2 linked regions of the Homo sapiens genome follow. The protein of the gene in region 1 purifies or fractionates together with the protein of each later gene. This does not show direct contact. Each region holds a gene or a part of one and is shown in the gene's direction. Other genes may lie near its edges.

What was found. The genes of interacting proteins can lie anywhere in the genome.
Region 2: the proteins of LSM14B (region 1) and DDX6 purify together in Homo sapiens (affinity purification with mass spectrometry; 5 studies listed by BioGRID and IntAct, with this or other methods). This does not show direct contact.

What each region holds. Positions count from the first base shown.
Region 1 is NC_000020.11:62,118,341-62,125,504, forward strand, and holds the start of LSM14B (protein LSM14 homolog B), read left to right. Parts: upstream 1-4,134; 5' UTR 4,135-4,326; coding exon 4,327-4,453; intron 4,454-4,764; exon of another isoform or gene 4,765-4,883; intron 4,884-5,115; exon of another isoform or gene 5,116-5,344; intron 5,345-6,276; coding exon 6,277-6,440; intron 6,441-7,164. UniProt on the Homo sapiens protein: mRNA-binding protein essential for female fertility, oocyte meiotic maturation and the assembly of MARDO (mitochondria-associated ribonucleoprotein domain), a membraneless compartment that stores maternal mRNAs in oocytes.
Region 2 is NC_000011.10:118,753,149-118,760,178, reverse strand, and holds part of DDX6 (probable ATP-dependent RNA helicase DDX6), read left to right. Parts: intron 1-134; coding exon 135-257; intron 258-1,276; coding exon 1,277-1,405; intron 1,406-2,891; coding exon 2,892-3,008; intron 3,009-3,855; coding exon 3,856-3,919; intron 3,920-4,675; coding exon 4,676-4,777; intron 4,778-5,291; coding exon 5,292-5,467; 3' UTR 5,468-5,474; intron 5,475-7,030.

The sequences.
Region 1 (7,164 bases):
CCCGCTAGGTGCTGGAGTTTAACACACTCCTCTTTTATTTTCCAAGGAACTTCCCATCACACAGGGCTCCTCACGCCAGGAAACTCGGCTGTTGGGGTGGGAAGGGGAGAAAGGGAGGTGGAAGGGGGACAGGAGGCAGGAGGGGGAGATGGATGGGAAGAGGGAAGAGGGTCTGAGGATGCCTGAACTTCAACCCACTGGTGCTCATCCAGCCTCCCGGGAAAACAGCCCTGCAGAGCCCCATGCAGGAGGAAATGGATTTTAACTGGATTCACAGAGAGCAGGTCAGACCTCCATGAGAATTCCTGATGGTACAGGATCAACTCAGCCCTCCCTCCTCACCTTACTGTCCAGCCACCTGTGGGTCCCTGTGCCCCGAACACCCTCCCTGGGCCTCACTGTCCCATTCCCTGCCCGGAAGTCCTCCTAGCAAAGCTGGCCCTGAGCCTCCCCACACGGCACACCTGTGCCCTCCTCAGCTCCCTTCAGGCTGGTGCTGTTGCACCTGTGCGGTTGGAGGGTCTTCCTCGGGGGAGGGGGCCTGAGGCCTGCAGGGCCTCCCCAATCCCCTCTCCTGCGCCAGATCCTGAATGAGGGGACGGGGACGGTTGAGTCCTGTCTCACCAGCACGTGGCCACACTTCAGACCACTGACTTATCTGTGGACCACCCATCGTTAACGCCCTCTGAATTAACTCAGCTGTTTTGTGTGGCGCCTACTGAGCAATGACACCTGTGAGATCAATGGCTGTGCCAGTCATTCTTGCTCAGGGGAACATTAGAGTCACAGGATGGTTTTCTGTGGTGGGGCACCCTTACCTGCTGCAGGATGCTGGCCTGTGCCACCCCAGCTAGACTGGTGATGCAACGTGGAGCAGGGTCCTTACTCCATGTCTCCCCACCTGTCACTGGGGACCACGGCATGCTCCTACATACACAGAGCAAGCACGTAATGAGTGGCTTGTGGCTGCAGCAGAAACCTCTCCAGCTGTCCCTATGGCCCTCCCAGTGCCCTCAGCACACCCAGTTCCTACACGTTCCTCCAGAATAGCCCCTGGTTACTCTCAAAGCCCTTCACAGGCATGATCTTCCGGGGTCCTCAAGCACACCAGTGAGATGGACAGGCAAATGAAGAAACTGAGGCAGGCAGTCCAAGTGGCCCAGGGTTTCCCAGAAGCCCCAGCTCATTCCTCCAAATCCTTGGGCTCGCTGGTCTAAAGCCTGGTGATTACCAGGCAGGTGGGCTGTTCAGACCTGTGCACAGTAAAGAGCTGCTTATAGTGGAGGTGCTGGATACATGTGCCCCAGCCTGGAAAACAAGCCATGCCAGTGAACGTCCAGGTCGACTTAGGCCTGGCACAACTGTCGCCTTCTCAGACCTCACCCAAGTGCCCTCCACTTTGGGCAGGATACCAAGGAATGAATGGCAGGGCCTGCATTCCTGGACCTGGGCACTACGTATATTTTTAGCCTCTGCCTTCCTGGGCATTTGCAGGGTGGCTAATGTTCTCAGGGAGCCACCAGCTGCACACCCACGGGCTGGGCAGGCACTCGGAGGTCTCTGGGAACTGCACCCTCCCTGCCTTCAGTCCGGGGGCTCAGAGGCCAGCTCCTTTTCAAGGCAGAATCAGCTCCTGCTAGTGAAGCATGCACCCCACCCCCAACACAGCCAGAAGCCTGTGGCTCAGAAACTAGGAGGCATGAAGTACAGGATTTGTGACCTTGGATTTCCTTACTTGGAAAATGGGGTGGGGTGGGGGGACAGAAGGACTTTGACTCCACATGGGATCACCAGGCCAGCTCACTCAGGAGACCTGGTTGGCACCTCCTCCTGACAGGTGCACCCTGTATATCCAAGTGGGGAAGGATGTGCTGTGTTGAGAAGCTGAGAGTCTGGGTCGCGCTTCCCAGGGCCAGATGCCCCAGTCGCTGGAGACCTCTCCTCCCTGAGCTGGGCTGACTCCATGGCTTTGCTGTCTCTGTTCTCTTCCTGCATATGATGTTCCAGGAGCCAAGAAGCAATTCTAGAATGTACAGGTCAATCTTGGCAGATGAAACTGAATTTTCCCTCTTCTCTTCTGCTTCCTGTGTCCCCTTCCTTAAACTCATCACTGTTCTCTTACTGGCCATTGCCGGGCTCTGGTGGGAGCAGGTTGGCTTCACCTTTGTGAAGAGACAAGAGACAGTGTGATGCGGCCCCAAGCCTGTGGAGGATGCCACCAGGCCAGACTGCAACTTCTCTGCGTGACTCCCCCGTGCTGGGCCTCTGTTTCCCCTTCTGTCAAATGGGGAGTCACAGCGTCTACCCTGCAGGGCAGGTAAGATCTTCTTATTATAGTCAGAAACACATTCTAGGTCCTTACCAAGTCCACACTTACACAAACAGGTGAATTAAATATTTCACAAAATAATACTTACTTTCACCATGCGAGATACTATTATTTTCTTTTTTTCCTTTAGAAATAGGGTCTTGCTGCCACCCCTGCGTGCAGTAGTCCAATCACAGCTCATTGCAGCCTCCAACTCCTGGGCTCAAGTGATCCTCCCGCCTCTGCCTCCACCTCCCCAGGAGCTGGAACTACAAGTATGTGCCCCCACACTCGCCCAATTTTTTTTAAAGTTTTTTTTTTTTTTGTAGAGATGGGGTCTCCATATGTCGCCCAGGCTGATCTCAAACTCCTGGCCTCCAGTGATCTTCCCGCTTCGGCCTCCCAGAGTGCTGAGATTACAGGCATGAGCCACCCACCACGCCATCTGATATCTTCTAGCTTATTCTATTTCATTTTTATTATTATTTTTCTTGAGACGGGGTCTAGCTCTGTCGCCCAGGCTGGAATGCAGTGGTGAGATCTCTGCTGACTGCAATCTTCACGTCTCAGGCTCAAGCGATTCTCCTGCCTCAGACTCCCGAGTAGCTGGGGATTACACGTGTCTGTCACCACGCCCGGCTAGTTTTTTTGTATTTTTAGAGTAGAGACAGGGTTTCACCATTTTGCCCAGGCTGGTCTTGAACTCCTCACCTCAAGTGATCCGCCCGCCTCCGCCTCCCAAAGTGTTGGGATTACAGGCGTGAGCCACCGCGCCCAGCCTATTGCATTTTTATAGTCACCACCCACTACTTTTTTTTTCCAGGACCCAATATTGGTCCGTGATCTGATGATGTTCACGGTCAAGACGGAAGCAAAAAAAGCACACACCGCGCGCCCTCGGTCACTAATCACGCGGAGTATACGCGAGGAGGGCCCGCAGCTAAGCGACGGCGGGCGGCCGAGCTTCCTCCACGGCCGGGGAGGTGGGCAAGGCCTCCGGGCCGCAGCCCCGGGTACGAGCGGAGGCTCCGAGGCCCCCGGTAGCCAGTCAGAATTTATTTTAAGGGAAATGGAAAGCTGCGGCAGGCTTTGGGAGGAGGGGCAGGATTAAAAGAGAAAGTGTGCTCAGCATGTTATATTTAGAGGCTGCCACGCCGGAAGCGCCGCCTTCCCGGGAGCTGCCGCCGCGCCCGCCCCCCGCCGGCACCTGGGCACTGGGGCGGGAGTCCCGGGGCTGCCCGGGAACACCCGGCGCCCAGGGCCTCCGCCACTCCCCGGTCCCCCATGAGGGTGAGGGCTATAGGCGCATCTGGCCCAAGATAGGGGAGTCGTCCGGACCCCACTTCTGTAGGAGGGGAAACTGAGGCCAAGGGGGCAAAGCCCCCGTGTTCGCGGCGCCCAGGGTCCGGGGCGGCGCCGGCACGCGCGCGGGCGGGGCCTGGCGCTCCTCCCCGGTCCCGCCCACTGAGCGTGCAAACCGCAGCCGCCCGCCCACGCGCACGCGCGCTCCTCCCGGGCCGCTTCCCACCCCTCCCCCCGCCCGCTCAGTCTCGTGCTCCCAGCTCCGCGAGGGGCCCGCCGGGAGCCGGCCGAGGGTGGGGCGGATCGCCGGGGAGACCCGCCCCCGGCCAGCGGCGCCTTGCTGCGCAGGAACGACGCGAGGGCCCGCCCCCCAGCTGGCGGCCCGGCCATATTTAAAGGACGGCGGGCGCGGCGAGCCAATGGGCGGCGAGCGTGAAGGGGCGGTGCGTGGCGGTGCGTGGCGGCGCGAGGCCCCGGATGTGGCTGCGGCGGCCCCTCCTCCCCCGCGCTCCTCTCAGAGCCCCAGTCGCGCGCCCCTTCTTGGTTCGCTCGGTGCCCGCGCAGGCCCCTCGGGCGGTGGCGAGGAGGCGCCCAGGCGGAGGCGGCGGCGGGCGGAGGAGCGCAGGAGCGGGCGGCCAGGCCACCGCGCGGCGGCGGAGCGGGCCGCGGCCCGGCGCTCCTTCCCCACCGCGGCCCGACGCACCCCGGCCGCCGCCATGAGCGGCTCCTCAGGCACCCCGTATCTGGGCAGCAAGATCAGCCTCATCTCCAAGGCGCAGATCCGCTACGAGGGCATTCTCTACACCATCGACACCGACAACTCCACCGTGGCGCTCGCCAAAGGTAGCGGCCGCCGCCCGCCCGAGCCCGCTGACCCCCGTCCGCCAACAGCCCCGGCCTGCGGTGCCCTCCCCGCCCCGGGGCGCCCCGGAGCCTGGCGCCCAGACCCCGCCCAGAACCCACCCAGGGCACACCCGGCCCGAGATCCCCTGCCCGCGCCTTCACCCCGGACGCCCCCGAGGCGCCCCCTTCCCGCGCGCCACCCTCCCCCAGCGTAGCCGGCCGCACAATGGTCTCCCTGGGCTCCCAGGGCGGCGGGATTGTGCGCGGGCGCCCGGCGGTGTTTGGTGAGGGGCGGGCCCGGCCCCCGCGGTGCCGCCCCCTCGGCCGCCCAGCCCACCTCTGCAGGTGCCAGCTCCGAGGAGCAGGGCGGCTCCCGTCAGCGGGCCTCCTCCCCGCCAGCCTGGGGGGATCCCTGCGGGGGAGCCTCGAGGTCGGGTGGCGGGGCCAGTGTCCCGGCGTCTCCCGAAGGCTGGGGGTGGGGTCACAACACGCGAATCCTGCAAGCCTTTCTGGAACTTATTAGACAGCTGGGGCCTTGATCCTGAACAAATACCGCGTCCTAATGCGGCCTCCTGCCAAGGCAGAAGCATCCGTTGGCAGCCAGATGCCCCGGTTTAAACGGTTCTCCTGCTCTATCCTGACCTTCCCACTGTGGGGCTTACCTTTTGGTGACAGCCGCCTGTGGGTGCTCGTAACCGGCTGTGGCCGCTGGAGGACTTACAGGAGGGGGGCTCTTTAGAGTCAGAATCTCTGAGGTTGTTGAGGCAGCGGGTGGTCCAGAGTTTCTTTGTCTTCATCACCCAGAGAAGACGGGGAGTGCACTTCCCCTGCCTCTCAGAGAAAAGTGCCCGTGGAGCCACGTCTGCCTAAGCCCGTGTGTGTGCTGGATCTGGCGCTAGGCTCCCAGGGGTTCTTGAAGTGTCTAGACGCGTCTGAAACGCTGCTTAGGTCACAGGGAACTTCATGTGTAGAAGAACGCACTCATTCCAAACAGGGAGTGTCTCCTTTTGAAGCCCGTCTCCTGCGTGGCTTCAGGAGCTTGTTGAGTATGCCAGGGCTATGCACTCACTTGCAGCCATGGAACCTCACTACACTTATTACAGGAGAGCCCAGTTAGAGAAGCTGAGGCCCAGAGTAGGCCCAGGAGTTAGCAGGAGTTGTGTCTTACCAGTTAGAGGCTGCTGTCCCACCCACCTCTGCCCCTAGAGGCTTGCTAGAAAGAGACTTGGGCGCTCCTGGAAGCCTGCTGGTTAGGGGTTAGTAGACTCAATTCCTTATAGATGCGGAAGCCGGGGTCAGAGGTCCATAATCCTGGGACCCTGTCTCCCTTTGTTTTCTGTTACAGCTGTTCCAAGGTTTGTTATGGATAGAAGGGTAAGGGCAACACTCGTCTAGATTCCTTTGTGAGAAAACTGCCTCCTCAGGCGCAATGTGCGGTGAGGCTTTGGGCATAAAGCAGCCGGCTGGCTGTTGGATCTACAGAGTCAAACGTGAACAGGGAGGCCTTACGAAGCAAGCCTTGTTTTGCTGAGAGCTCTGTACGTTGGTGCCTTCGCACATCAGACTGTCAGTCTGTGAAATTGTTCCTTGTCATCTTTGTGATCTAGAGCTGTCTGTTGTCTGGAGCTTCACCAATTGGTGCATTATCAGCACTGTCCATTGAAAATCGGGGCATTAAGTAGTTGTTGAAATGTGGACCTGGGGTGCTGTGTTGTGGCTCTGAGCAAGTGTCGCCGTCTTTTGGAAGGCTTGGGAGCAGTGGTGTCAGGGTTGATTGAACTGGCTGAGGACAACAATAACGCTTCTCTTTCTCCACTCATAAGTGAGGTCCTTTGGCACTGAAGACCGTCCCACAGATAGGCCTGCGCCCCCCAGAGAGGAGATTTATGAGTACATCATTTTCCGAGGAAGTGACATCAAGGATATCACTGTGTGTGAACCTCCGAAAGCTCAGCACACACTCCCGCAGGATCCCGCCATTGTTCAGGTAAGTGTGCCACTGTCCCTCTGTGCATGCTGTAGGAGATGCTGGTTTCCATTTGGAGCTTGGTGGCATGTTTGGTCAGAACGCTCAATGTGAGGAATAACCTTTTTTTTTTTTTCTTTGAGGCAGCGTCTCGCTGTGTCACCAGGCTGGAGGTCAGTGGCGTGATCTCAGCTCATTGCAACTTTGGCTTCCCAGGTTCAAGCAATTCTCCTGCCTCAGCCTCCCGAGTAGCTGGGACTACAGGGACGCACCACCATGCCCAGCTAATTTTTGTAATTTTAGTAGAGACGGGGTTTCACCATGTTGGCCAGGATGGTCTCAATCTCTTGACCTTGTGATGCACCCGCCTTGGCCTCCCAAAGTGCTAGGATTACAGGCGTGAGCCACCACACCCAGCCTGAGGAATAACCTTTTAATGAAAAGTGGCTTAACTTTTGTCCAGGCTGTTGCTGCTCTCACAGAAGGTGTTGATTCTTGTAGCACACACAGTAGGTGGTGTGTGCTGTGTCACGTGGCTCTTAAGGAAGGCGACCTGGGGAGTTGGGTGTGCATGTGCGCGTGTGTAGTGTAGTGTGGTATGAGTGGATGCTCCTGGACCTGTGATGTTTCGGGCATAGCGTTTGCCCTTAGTTTCTGGTTGGAGAAGTCTGAGCCCTGAGCAGCTGCTGTGAGTGGCGTGACCTACCTGCAGGGACTGCAGGGCTTGCCCTCGGGTTACGCCCAG
Region 2 (7,030 bases), on another chromosome or scaffold:
GAATTTATTGTTTTCCACCAGGAACATTTCATGGATGCTTTTGTTGGATGATGCCTTATTCTTTGACCATGTATTAACCAAGACCTTAGACATTATTTTATTGTTTTTAAAATTGTCTTTTCTTTCTACTGCAGGCAGATAAGTTGCTGTCACAGGATTTTGTGCAGATAATGGAGGATATTATTCTCACGCTACCTAAAAACAGGCAGATTTTACTATATTCCGCTACTTTCCCTCTTAGTGTACAGAAGTTCATGGTGAGTATAAATCTGTACTTGGAATCAGTGCCATCCTGTGACCTTTGAGTATGCTTTTATTTGTAATTACATCTTCATATCTGTGAATATACTTTATGCTAATTATTTCAAGCCTTTGGCTCTTTCTTCAGTTGATCAATTAAAGATTTGTTTTACGTAAATTAACTGACTTTTTAAGAAGGTTGTAATAGTAACTTAATTAAATTCCTCATCTTTCACTTAGTTTTTGGTGTCATGATGACATAGCCATTGGTGCTAGCTGAATTGATTCCGGTATTATTCTATATACAAAACAGAGCTTGAGTATCCTAAACTGAAATCCAAAATACTGCAGAATTTGAAACCTTTTGAGCCACGAACATGATGCTAAAAGGAAATGTTCTTTGGATTTTGAATTTTCAAATTAAGGATGCTCAGTCACTAAGTGTAATGCACATATTCCAAAATTAGAAAAAATTTAAAACCTGAAACACTTCTGTTCCTAAGCATTTTGGGTAAGGAATACTCAACCTGTAGTAACTTAGCTGCATTTTTGAGATCTTATATCTTAATTTATTTCTATCGGGTCGGGCATGGTGGCTCATGCCTGTAATCCCAGCACTTTGGGGGGCCGAGGCGGGCAGATCACAAGGTCAGGAGTTCGAGACCAGCCTGGGCAACATGGTGAAACCCCGTCTCTACTAAAAATACAAAAATTAGTCTGTTATGGCAGTGCATGCCTGCATTCCCAGCTACTCGGGAGGCCGAGGCAGGAGAATCACTTGAACCCGGGAGGTGGAGGTTGCAGGGAGCAGAGATCGTGCCACTACACTCCAGCCTGGGTGACAGAGCAAGATTTTGTCTCAGGGTGGCAGGGGGGAAATTCTGTAATGACAGATCATATATTTTGTTTTGAAGAGAGTTGCGTCCCTTACAGCAAGAGTTTATCGGACAGAAACGTATAGGGTATATTTTGAATTTGAGATGAACTCTGCTTTCATTTAAGACGACGACTCATCTTTTTCCCGCTCCCCCCCCAGAATTCCCATTTGCAGAAACCCTATGAGATTAACCTGATGGAGGAACTAACTCTGAAGGGAGTAACCCAGTACTACGCATATGTAACTGAGCGCCAAAAAGTACACTGCCTCAACACACTTTTCTCCAGGGTAAGAAGTAGGCTTCTGCTGTTGAATATTATCTCTCGAGTCCCAGTAAAACAGATGATTTCATCAATTTTCCCACCGTCTTCACTGTATAAAAGTTCGTAGTGTTTCTGGCTTGGCACGGTGGCTCATGCCTCCCAGCACTTTGGAGGCTGAGGCAGGCAGATCACGAGGTCAGGAGTTTGAGACCAGCCTGGCCAACATGGTGAAACCCCATCTCTACTACAAAATACAAAAAAATTGGGCATGGTGGCGTGTGCCCATAATCCCAGCTACTTGGGAGGCCGAGGCAGGAGAATTGCTTGAACCCAGGAGGCGGAGGCTGCAGTGAGCTGAGATTGCACCATTGCACTCCAGCTCTGGGCGACAGAGCAAGACTCCGTCTTGGGAAGAAAAAAAAAAAGATTAAAAAATAATTCATAGTGTTTCCTAAAAGGCAGGTTTAGTTGTTGACCTAAAGTTGATACTAAATGATTAACCAAGTCACAGATACACTTTTGAATAGTTTCTGAAATACTTTGACCTTAACTAGGGTTAATCCTCATTATTCACATATTCTGTATTTGTGAATTTGCTTAGTCACTAGAATTTATTTGTAACTCCGGAATTAATACTCAAGGTAGTTCAGCAGTCATTTGTGGACGTGTACAGTGTGGCAAAGAGTTTAAGTCACCTGACATGCACATTCCCAGCTGAGGTCGAAGAAAGCAATCTCTGTCCTCTTGTTTAGCTCTCATACTGTGAACAAGGGTCCTTTTCACAGTCTGCCATGTTTTTCAAGTTTTTGTTGCTGATTTCACAGTTTTAATTGGCCCCTACACATGGTGCTGAAGTGCTGCCCAATGCTGGTGGCATTGGTTGTGAGTATATTAAAGAAGGTATTCTTGGCTGGGCACAGTAGCTCATACCTGTAATCCCAGCACTTTGGGAAGCCGAAGTGGGCAGATCACCTGAGGTCAAGAGTTCAAGACCAGCCTGACCAACAGGCTGAAACCCTGTCTCTACTAAAAATACAAAAGTTAGCCAGGCATTGTGGTGGGTGCCTGTAATCCCAGCTACTCAAGAGGCTGAGGCTGGAGAATTGTTTGAACCCAGGAGGCAGCTGTTGCAGTGAGCTGAGATTGCACCATTGCACTCCAGCCTGGACAACAAGAGTGAAACTCCATTTCACAAAAAAAAAATAAAATAAAATATTTTTAAATGGAAACACATAAAACATAACTACTTTGAATCAGATAATCAATTGTATTACTCTTGTTGACAGTTATGTGGCCCTTAAGAAATATACTCTAATACGGTAAATCTTAGATATTATTATCTTCCATCTATTATTTACAATTTTTACAATTTACCATCTCTCTCATATCATGAGATTCTAAGTTTTAGACCATGTTAATGTTTCTTTTTTGCTGGTTCGTGTTTTCAAGATTTGGCAAACCAAATGAAGGTTTTTTTTATTTTTCTCATACTTATTTTTTTCTGTGCTCAGCTTCAGATAAACCAGTCGATCATTTTCTGTAACTCCTCTCAGCGAGTTGAATTGCTAGCCAAGAAGATTTCTCAACTGGGTTATTCTTGCTTCTATATTCATGCTAAAATGAGGCAGGTGAGTATAAAACTAGAACTTGCACAAATTTAATAAGAAATCTCTTTCTTTATTTTGTTTTAATGTTCTTTTAAATGTCCTGAGTTTAAGAATAAACTGTTCCTTAGTAGCCAAAGGACCTTTCATTTTGACCTCCCTCAGGTTCAATTTTCTAGCAATAAAATAGGGATAATAGTACATATTCATAACTTACAAGGTTGTTAGGAAAATTAAGATAAATGTTTAAATGAGTACTTTGGAAGCTGTCAGGCATGATACAAATGTAAAATTTTATTCTTCCCTTCCTTTCCATGTTTAATTCTCTGTTTAATACAGTAAATAGCCACATGTGGCAATTTAAATCAGTTAAAATTAAAATAAAAAGTCAGTTTCTCAATCACAGCCACATTTCAAGTGCTCAGTTAGGCACCTGTTGCTACTGGATAGTGTATTGGAATTGGAAGTACAGACACAAATATTTCCTTTATTATAGAAGTTTTACTGGACAGCACTGCTCTGGATTTTTAAATATGGCCCCTCAGCTGGCTGATTTTTCTTTTTTTCTTTACTGTTTGCCTTTAGAAAAAGATACAATATCTAAATTTCAGAATTTGATTTAGCAAAAAATAATTTAAAACTGTAACAAAAATGACTTTTTTGTTAACTACATTATGAAATTTCGTAAGTAAACAGTTTCTGTAGACGAAGATATCAAGAACTTAACTCATTTGGTTTTGAAAGCAGCTTAATATCATGGATCACTTATAAACAGATTTTGGGTAGAACTGATCGTCTGGGAGAAATAATTATGGGAAATTTGGGGCTGTATATGAGTGTTAATCAAATGGAATACATTGCTTTCTCCTAGGAACATCGAAATCGTGTATTTCATGATTTCCGAAATGGCTTATGCCGCAATCTTGTTTGCACTGGTAAGTATTTTTGTATTTCCTTTACCCAGTGTTTTTCTCCCAAGTTGTTTTTTGCTTTCTCTGTTCATATTACATAGTGCAACCTGTGACATAGTCCGACACACCCTACCACTACTTCTAGGATTTCTGAAGTTGAAAATGAACTCTTGTCAGCTCCTGATACTGGGTTCCATATCTGAAACTTTAGAAGACTTACTCTGGCACTCATACCTCATCTCTGTCTTTTTTTTGGGGGGGGGGGGGAGGGGGATGGAATCTTTGTCACCCAGGCTGGAGTGCAGTGGTGCGATCTTGGCTCTCTGAAACCTCCACCTCCTGGGTTCAAGTGATTCTCCTGCCTCAGCCTCCCAAGTAGCTGGGATTGTGGGCGCCTGCTACCGCTTAGCCCGGCTAATTTTTGTATTTTTGGTAGAGACAGGGATTTCACCATGTTGGCCAGGCTGGTCTCGAACTCCTGACCTCAGGTGATCTTCCTGCTTTGGTCTCCCAAAGTGCTGGGATTACAGGCTTGAGTGCACCCAGCCTCTTTTAGACACATTTTTTAAAACTTGCTTACAATTACTGGAAAAAAGTAACTTGGGAGCAGAAAGTTATTTATGATAATGTGATTATGAAAGGTAATGCCAGTAATGTGCAAATGCATTTGAATAACTGAATTAAATTAATAAACTTAGGTTATGCTAGAAATATGTGTTAGTATTGTACTGAGAGACATTTCTAAATTGAAAAAATGAAAATTATCTTTTTTTTTTTAAGATCTGTTTACCCGAGGTATTGATATACAAGCTGTGAATGTGGTAATAAACTTTGATTTCCCAAAGCTGGCAGAGACCTATCTCCATCGTATTGGAAGATCAGGTGAGGAAAAAAGAGGTGATATTCTTGGTAGAAGTTCTTTTTTGAGGCGTGTAATGACTAAATTTTGTTCTTTTGTGAAATAGAGTACAGTAGCTATGAGAACAGTGAATTAACAGTAATTCAGTTGTTTGGTATTTAAGACTAATTTCTAATTCTTCTGTAGCATTTATTAAGAAAAGTTAAAATAACTGCTTAATTTGAGATGAAATTAACACATGAGAACTTCACTCATTAGGTGGTATGTTCTGTGACTGTTGTTTAATGTGTATTTTATGGCAGTTTTGACTGCCATTTTGTCATTTGAGAAAGGTGAAATGAAGTACTATTTTGGGCTGCGAAACCTGAAGTTGTAGGGAAACCTGTGTTTGAAGACCATTAAGAAGTTGTTTTGCATACTAAGAATGGCACTGAACATCATTATCAATCCTGTGTGGTTTTGCCACTGCTTGACTTGCACAATTCACATTGATTTTCATATTTTATTCATTAAAATTTTTAAACGCATGTTTTTTAGGTCGCTTTGGTCATCTTGGCTTAGCCATCAACTTGATCACATATGATGATCGCTTCAACCTGAAAAGTATTGAGGAGCAGCTGGGAACAGAAATTAAACCTATTCCGAGCAACATTGATAAGAGCCTGTATGTGGCAGAATACCACAGCGAGCCTGTAGAAGATGAGAAACCTTAACAAGCATGTACGTCCCTGACAGAACAGCTAAGAGGAACCTTTAAATGAGGGAAATCAAAATCTTCTTTCCTGGGGGAAATTTGATGTCACACCATATATAATAGCAATAAAGGGTAAAATACCCACTAGCATAAATGACAGTAAATAATATCTCTTGTGGGAGGTTGTAGTCTCATTCGAGAATCTGTAAATGTTGTTCTTGAATGCAGCTTCCCGGGTAATGTGGTAGATTAGCAGTACTTAAATTCAGAGTCCTAAAATAATGAAAGCAAAAAAGAATGTTTTTCAGCAATTTGTTTTTCTTTTTGAGACAAGGTCTCACTGTCATCCAGGCTGGAGTGCAGTGGTGCAATCATAGCTCACTGCAGCCTGGTTCTCCTGGGCTCCTGAGTAGCTGGAACTGTAGGCACATGCCACCACGCCTGCCTAATGTTTTAAATTTTTGGTAGAAACAAGGTCTTGCTTTGTTGCCTAGGCTGGTCCAGAACTCCTGAACTCCAGCAGTCCTCCTGCCTTGGCTTCCCAAAGTGTTAGGATTATAGGCGCAAGCCACTGTGCCACTGTGCCTGGCCTTTTTTGACAGTTTTGTAGGGGGGATTTTTGTTGTTTTTGTTTTTTGAGAGTCTTGCTCTGTTGCCCAGGCTGGAGTACAGTGGCACAATCACGGCCCACTGCAACCTCTGCCTCCCAGGTTCAAGCGATTCTGGTGCACCTCAGCCTCCCAAGTAGCTGGAATTACAGGCATGCTCCACCATGCCCAGCTAATTTTTGTATTTTTTAGTAGAGTTGGAGTTTCACCATGTTGGCCAGGTTGGTCTTGAACTCCTGACCTCAAGTGATCTACCCGCCTCAGCCTCCTAAAGGGAGGCTGGGATTACAGGTGTGAGCCACCACACTGCCAGCAGTTTTGAATATGAAAGTATTTACATTTCTGAAAATGTAAAATGTTTTTAGCATTTACTCTTAATTTCTAGTAAGTACATTAATCACTCTGATAAAACTATCCATAATACCTTATTAGCAAATGTTTAATCAGATTATGAGGATGGCCATCTTTTTAAAATACCCACTCTGGGCCGGGTGCGGTGGCTCACACCTGTAATCCCAGTACTTTGGGAGGCCGAGGTGGGCGGATCACGAGGTCAAGAGATCGAGACCATCCTGGCCAACATGGTGAAACCCTGTCTCTACTAAAAATACAAAAATTAGCCGGGCATGGTGACACGCACCTGTAGTCCCAGCTACTCGGGAGGCTGAGGCAGGCGAATCACTTGAACCTGGGAGGTGGAGGTTACAGTGAGCTGAGACCGCACCACTGCACTCCAGCCTGGGTGACAAAGCTAGACTCCATCTCAAAAAAAAAAAAAAAAAAAAAGCCACTTGGGCTGGCTCAGTGGCTCACACCTGTAATCCCAGCACTTTGGGAGGCCGAGGTGGGTGGATTACCTGAGGTCAGGACTTCAAGACCAGCCTGGCCAACCTGGTGAGACCCCGTGTCCACTAAAGATACAGAAAATTAGCCAGGCATGGTGGCGGGCGCCTGTAATCCCAGCTAGTCAGGAG